2 linked regions of the Homo sapiens genome follow. The protein of the gene in region 2 interacts with the protein of the main gene of each other region in a pairwise test. Each region holds a gene or a part of one and is shown on either strand. Other genes may lie near its edges.

Region 1 (3,655 bases), on a different chromosome or scaffold from region 2:
TCATGTTCTAAATCCTTTGTAGCCACAAAACGTGAAACCACCCACCCACTGTTCCCAAAGCCTCTCCCACTCTGGGCAGATCAGAGTCTCCCATGAAATTCTTTCTTCAGGGCAAACAGTGACTCTACAATGGGTACTAACTCTATTGTGTAGATGCAGAAATTGAAATTCAGAGATTTAAGTAGACTGAGGTTTATATTCATGATGTGATGGCCTATGGTTAAAATGGACTTCAGGTGATACATACCTAAAAGTATCACCTGGGCTTCCCTTAGGTGATTATTTTTACACTCCTTATAATTTTGGCAATATCTTCAGTTAATGAAAAAACAATACTTACTTTATTTGCTTCCAGCTGAGATTCCAGAGTTCCTGTTTCTTTGAGCAATGATCTAGTTAAGAACCGAAGGAAATCATTATGCATCACATCACAGGTCAATATTTCATACATGCATACCAACTCGAAGCTCCTCTGTTTCAACTTCTCCAAGGTTATGTGGCTTACATGAAGCAAAATTTCACAGAGCCAAATTTTCACAACCTTGCCAGACTGATGAGAAGGGAAGACTTTCCCTAGTTCTTCTCTGACTAGGAGAAGGCTTTCACATACCCCTCTTAATTATTCTTCTTAAATACACACTTAAGCAATGTAGGCAAGATTCCGTCTAGTGAAGTATAAGGGCAGAATGAAATATAATGAGCTTTTCCTTCTCACTCCACATTTTTATTTACATACTACCAGATTACAATGGAATGAAAATGTCTCAGCACTAACTCTTTCTTAACGAATTCTTCCATAATAATATAATAAAGCAAACATGATGATAACATAAAATACTGACCCATCCAGAAAGTAAGCCCTGGACATGGAGGTCCGGAACAGGAATCACATGAGAGAAAAGGGAGATGATATGTTAAAATGGATTACTTTAAAGATCTCATTTCCTCAGATTTATGAAACATTTTAAATCTTTTGTTGCCACAAAACATGAATCTGTCCACCCACTGGTTCCCAAGGCCTCTCCCACTCTGAGAAGATCAGAGTCTCCCATAAAGCTCCTTGCTTCAGGACAAGGAGCACCAATGTCAAGGAATATGCTTGGTGTTGGACACACATTGCCAGGATGTGATGAAGTCACCAAGAAAAGAGGAAGAGAAGGGTGTTCTGTGTCTTCTCTGCCTTCTGTCAGATGGTTTAGACATGGTATAGGATTTCTTTTTGTTCATTTATCGTTGTCAGTGAGTATGTAGAAAAGTATATATCATGAATTGTCTAAACCACCACATTAACCCTCAAAACACCACAGTTTTGACACACCTACTGGATACAACTTTGACCATGTATTCTAATATATTACATCTTCTAAGTCTCCTTTTTCTAGGTCATTTACCCCAGAAGATGTGACATATGTTATCTTCAGGTACAGAACAGTTTGCTATTAATAAGCACAATTAACATAAATTATCTCACTTGATTCTCATTAGAACTTTAGTAGGTACACAACAGAATAGCTTCATATGAGGTATTCATAGAAGATTCTGCTTCTGGTTATGCCAGTAAATATATATGTGACCTTGAGCAAGTAAATTTATCTACTTGAACTTTCCACACTTGGAAACAGAGCTAATAAGAGCTGCTCTGTATGCTTTTCAAGGTTGCTCCGACAGTTAAGTGAGGTAATGGATATGGAAGTACTCTGTAAAGTGCAATATGGCATGTGAACATAAGAAATTGTTATTATTTTGGACTGAAATTACAGGCAACAGAAAGAAAGGTGAGAGTATCAAGGAGAGAATACAGAAGTGTACATAATAAGCAGAAGGATGAAATTGTCATTTCTTGGTTTTCCAAGAATTGATTCAGAAAACAGTCAACTCCAAATATAAAGCATAGGCAAGATATGGGGATTTTAGGGCAGAATACATGCTCTCAGAGTCTCTCCTCTTCCCTTCAAACATGTATTTCATCCCTATGGCAAATGGTGGTGGCACAGGGGTCATGGTTTGGGATGTAGCATAGCACACCTGGTTTCCAGGATCCATTGAAGGAAGGTACTGGCATTCTGTTCAAACTCCTGACACATCTCAAAGTTCTTGACCTGTCTTGCCTCTTCCTTTTGCAGCTCCTGCTCCCGTTCCTAAAACCCCAAATCACAGACAACGTGACTGACATCGAAGGCCTTTCTTTGCCATAAGAGAATTGGTTTGTAGGCTTAACTGCATATCTTTCCTCTCTCAAGTCTAACCTATCTTCCACAGGTATGTGCCTGTGTGCTCATATTTCATGCAGTCAACCTCTCTCACCTCTAAAATGTAAAGATAGCCTGTGTATTTCCCAAGAGTACTTGCAGGGTCCTCTAAGACCAAGTCCCGTAACAAGTAAGCTAGTAATAAAAGCAAACCTCTCCTGTTTATAATTTCTTTTGGGGAAATTTAATTTAAATGAACACAAAAGCAGCCTTAAAGGGCCTGCTACCCTTAGAAACAATAGTTACTATCTAAAAATGGTGATATTGTGGTTAGTTTTCTATTACACTTTTTATGTTTCATAGTTTCAATAATGAACATTATTAACACAGACAAAAGCTAAAAATACATACGTAGCAAGGCACTTTTGGAGGTGTATATAAAAACGAAAATGTCTTGAATGAGGGGGATATGTAGACAATGAATACATATAAAGCCTCATGAACTTTTCATAGCTCATCATTAGAACCATGTCTTGGGGCTTCTGTTTGCTTCTCAGAATCATTGTTCAATACTCAAAAACAGGAAACTGCCCAAATTATGGGGCATAGGGTATACCTATGATAAACATATTTTCCAGTTTTTCTTAGACAGTCATGTTTCATGACTTCTGTCCCAGTATAGTTATTAATAGTGTTCCTTCTATGTCAAAAGTCTATTTACTTGGATAATAAAGTGGTTATGTTCACTGTAGTGAAAGGAAGTTTCTGCCGTGTTCCAGGTTACCTCAATGATGTCAGATAGGTGCTTCCAGGTCCTTTCCAGCACCTCCACTGTTAACCAGGTATAAGGGCTGGAAGGCACACCTAAGGCCTTAATCTGCTGGTCTAGCTCCAGCAAACATTTAAAGTCTGCTTGAGCCCTAGCCAGGGAGGCCAAGAAGTCCTCATGGTCTTTCTGCAGCTGCCGAATTTCATTCAGGGAGACACAGTGCACAGGCTCTGACAAGTTTTCTTCCATCTTTTCACACCAGTTGTTCAAAGCTGAAGCCTTATGTGCAAATTCCACGAACAGGTCCTCAGCCTGCAGAGAGAAAAAAAAGACACTACCATCTTTCCTGATAAAGCCTCTCAGCAGAAGAGAAGATTGAGGATAAAAATAATGCCTGTCTTTAAATATCTGCAGGGCCACCAATCTAAAAGGGCAGAACTAAAACCAATAGGGACTGTGTACTTTGATGGTTGAACATGTGAGTTAGCGGTACGAGCCCTGGTTCTGGCATTTTCTCATTGTGTGAAATTGTTTAAGTCTTTCATCATTTACAAATGAGGGAGGTCGAATTATTTCTAAAATTATTTCAGTTTTAAAATTCCAAAAGTAGCAAAGGTAGTTTTCAATTATATGATTTCTTGTTCTAAAGTCTATCCTCCAGTTCTACCCGGCAAGTAGTAAACATGAAAAAAAAAAA
Region 2 (3,276 bases):
TCTGAGAGAAGTGAGTGTTACTGCCAGTAGCTGCGCTGGGCCCTTCGGTGTTCACACCTGCCCGTCCATGTCAGCACCAGGTGGCTGTCCCTGGGGAGCTCTGCAGCTCAGTGGCAACTCTCTGGTCATCCTGTCTCCTACCTGCAAACTTTCAAAGATGGAAGCACTGGGACAGGGTTCCTCCTTGTGCGGAACTTCAGGAATGAAAGAATCTGTCCTAATAGGGGGTGAATGAAAGTTTATGTATACTACTTAAAAATATGTAAACAACATTAAAAGAGCAAAGAAACATAATTGCACCCAAAAAAAAAAGTAACAAAAAGTAAAGAAAAGAAATAGTCAAGGTAGCCTGTCCACATGGTAAGAAACCCCACAGCACAGAAGGAAACTGAACTGAGGGGAGTGAGCCGCCCTTCCACTGCCCAGCACTCACCTTTGCTTTACAGGAACAAGAGCTGTGCAAACCAGCATGTAGAGATTTCTGCATTTATAGCATTAGCACTCTCCCTTTTTTTTTTTTATTAACTCAAAAGGGATCACGTCATACACAGCTTGCTTCTTTCACTTTTTTATTTTATTTTTGAGACAGGGGCCTGCTCTGTGGTCCAGGCTATAGTGCAGTGGTTCCATCAGAGCTCACTGCAGCTTCTAACTCCTGGGCTCAAGCAATCCTCCCACCTCAGCCCCCAGAGCTGCTGAGATAACAGGCGCATATCACCACACCTGGCTAGTTTTTTAAATTTATTTTTTGTAGAGACGGGGTCTTGCTATGTGACCCAGGCTGGTCTCGAATTCCTGAGCTCAAGTGATCCTCCTGCCTCAGCCTCTTAAAGTGCTGGGATTACAGGCATGAGCCATGCACCCCTACTTCTTTAGTGGGAGTCTGTGCCACAGCTGTGGACACAGGTGTCCCTAGTTATTAAATTAGACTTTGTGGTATTTTCCCCATCAGGATGTTCACACTTCCATGTGGCTAAAGCTATTGATCTTTTCTGTTCTGGCTCCTGAGCTGAGATTTTCTTAAACTCTTTCTGGATGAAATCTTTATTTCATCAGGCTGGTGGCGTCCACGGCCTCAACTTTACCTCCGTGATGGAAGAGGGGGATCTGAGGCTCCCAGGTGGGCCGGCGCCGCCCTACAGGAAAGGAGGGGTCCCTGGGAGGGGCTGTTGCCCTGGTGGGGTTCACAGGCCCCTCACTGCAGGGGACCCGGAGCAAGGGATGCCCCCTGGAATGGCCCCGTGACCAGAAAGCGAGCCTGCCCAGCTTCCCCAGGAGGAGCCTGCAGTCCACACTCGCGTAGCCACTCCGGGTGGTGGCAGGGTCTCTCCCTGCTCCCTTCCATAGTCCCGCCACAGCCCACAGCCCTGAGGAAGCCTGGGGGTGGAGGGTGCCCCGGCCAGGGTCTCTGTGACTCACACTCAGGGTGGGCCAGGCGTCCACAGGCTGGGGGCGGGCTGGAGGACAGTGGCAGCCCCAGGTGGCCACACAGCATGGTGGTGGTGGTGGTGGTGGTGCACGGCAGGCAGCCTTGGCCTGGCAGCTCGTGGGACCCTCGGGGGCACATGTGGCGGGTCCTGCCACAGACGCACCTGCTGCTTAGGACGCAGCCCAGGCTGCTCCCCACCTCCACTCCCGCCCTGTTCCTAACTGGGGCTGGATCCCATGTGATAGGCAGGATGGCAGGGTCTAAGCATCCTCCCAGAGGAGGCTCCTCCCCCGCCCCAAATTGTGCAACCCATTCCTCATCTGGGCTGGGACTCGATGGGGATGGGGGCTTCACAGCCAGACTGTAGACCTGAGCCAGGAATGCCCTTTCAGAGCTACACAGATGCAGAAATTTCCAGAAGAAAAACCACCCAGGCCCTGTTTCCTTGGCCTAGGGTTCTGCTGGGGGCTAAGCCTACCTGCAGGGCTGGGGGCAGGGCCTTGAGCATCCAGTTCTGCAGGACCAACTGGTGCACCTGTGCGTTCTGCAGCAGCAGCAGCTCCACCATGTCTGCAGGGAAGAAGCAGGGGGACCCTGAATAAAGTTTCCGTTTTTCCTATTTGTTAAAGTGATAGAGCATTATAGGACCAGAGAACAGGTGTGTCTGTACACTGTGCAGGTCCCCGGGGCAGGCTCTGAGTCCGTCTGCACACGGTGCGGGTCCCCGGGGCGCGCCCTGAGCCCGTCTGCACACGGTGCGGGTCCCCGGGGCGCGCCCTGAGCCCGTCTGCACACGGTGCGGGTCCCCGGGGCGCGCCCTGAGCCCGTCTGCACACGGTGCGGGTCCCCGGGGCGCGCCCTGAGCCCGTCTGCACACGGTGCGGGTCCCCGGGGCGCGCCCTGAGCCCGTCTGCACACGGTGCGGGTCCCCGGGGCGCGCCCTGAGCCCGTCTGTACACGGTGCGGGTCCCCGGGGCGCGCCCTGAGTCTCTACTAAAAATACAAAAATTAGCCAGGCGTGGTGGTTCAAGCCTGTAATCCCAGCTCCTTGGGAGGCTGAGGCATGAGAATCGCTTGAACTCAAGAGGCAGAGCTTGCGGTGAGCCAAGATCGTGCCACTGTACTCCAGCCTGGGCAACCAGGGCGAAACTCCGTCTCAAGAAAAAAAAAAAATTAAAACATCTAAGCCAGTTGTAGTGGTGCATGCCTGTAGTCCCAGCTACTCAGGAGGCTGAGGCAGGAGGATCACTTGAGCCCAGGAGTTCGAGGCTGTAGTGAGCCATGATCATGCCCCTGCACTCTAGCCTGGGTAACAGAGCAAGATACTATCTCCCCAGAAAATAAATAATAAAATATCTGTTCATCTACAGACACCATGAAGAGAGTGAAAAGGCAACCACAAGAAGGATGGAACACTCAAAATGCACATATCAAAAAAGGGCTCATTACAGAAATTATAAAGAATCCCTAGAAACCAATAAGGGAGGCAGGCAACCTGAAAGAAAAATGGGCAAATTACTTAAATGGACACTTTACAAAAAAGGATATTCAAGTAGCCAATAAGGCCAGGCACGGTGGCTCATGCCTGTGATGCTCGCACTTTGGGAGACCGAGACAGGAGAAGTCCTTGAGACCAGGAGCTGACACCAGTCATAGCAAGACCTCATCTCTACACACACACACACACACACACACACACAAAATATATATATATATATATATATATATATATATATATATTTTTTTTTTTTTTTTTTTTTTTGGAGACAGAGTCTTGCTCTGTCGCCGAGGCTGGAGTGCAGTGGTGCGATCTCGACTCACTGCAAGCTCCGCCTCCTGGGTTCACG

The links. Proteins that work in one complex are often made in the same cells at the same time.
Region 1: the proteins of C21orf58 (region 2) and SPTA1 interact in a two-hybrid assay, tested with the Homo sapiens proteins (one large-scale study listed by BioGRID).

The regions. Positions count from the first base shown.
Region 1 is NC_000001.11:158,617,197-158,620,851, forward strand, and holds part of SPTA1 (spectrin alpha chain, erythrocytic 1), read right to left. Parts: intron 3,271-3,655; coding exon 2,974-3,270; intron 2,139-2,973; coding exon 2,026-2,138; intron 861-2,025; coding exon 843-860; intron 393-842; coding exon 341-392; intron 1-340.
Region 2 is NC_000021.9:46,300,578-46,303,853, forward strand, and holds the end of C21orf58 (uncharacterized protein C21orf58), read right to left. Parts: intron 2,000-3,276; coding exon 1,908-1,999; intron 1,578-1,907; coding exon 1,422-1,577; 3' UTR 553-1,421; downstream 1-552.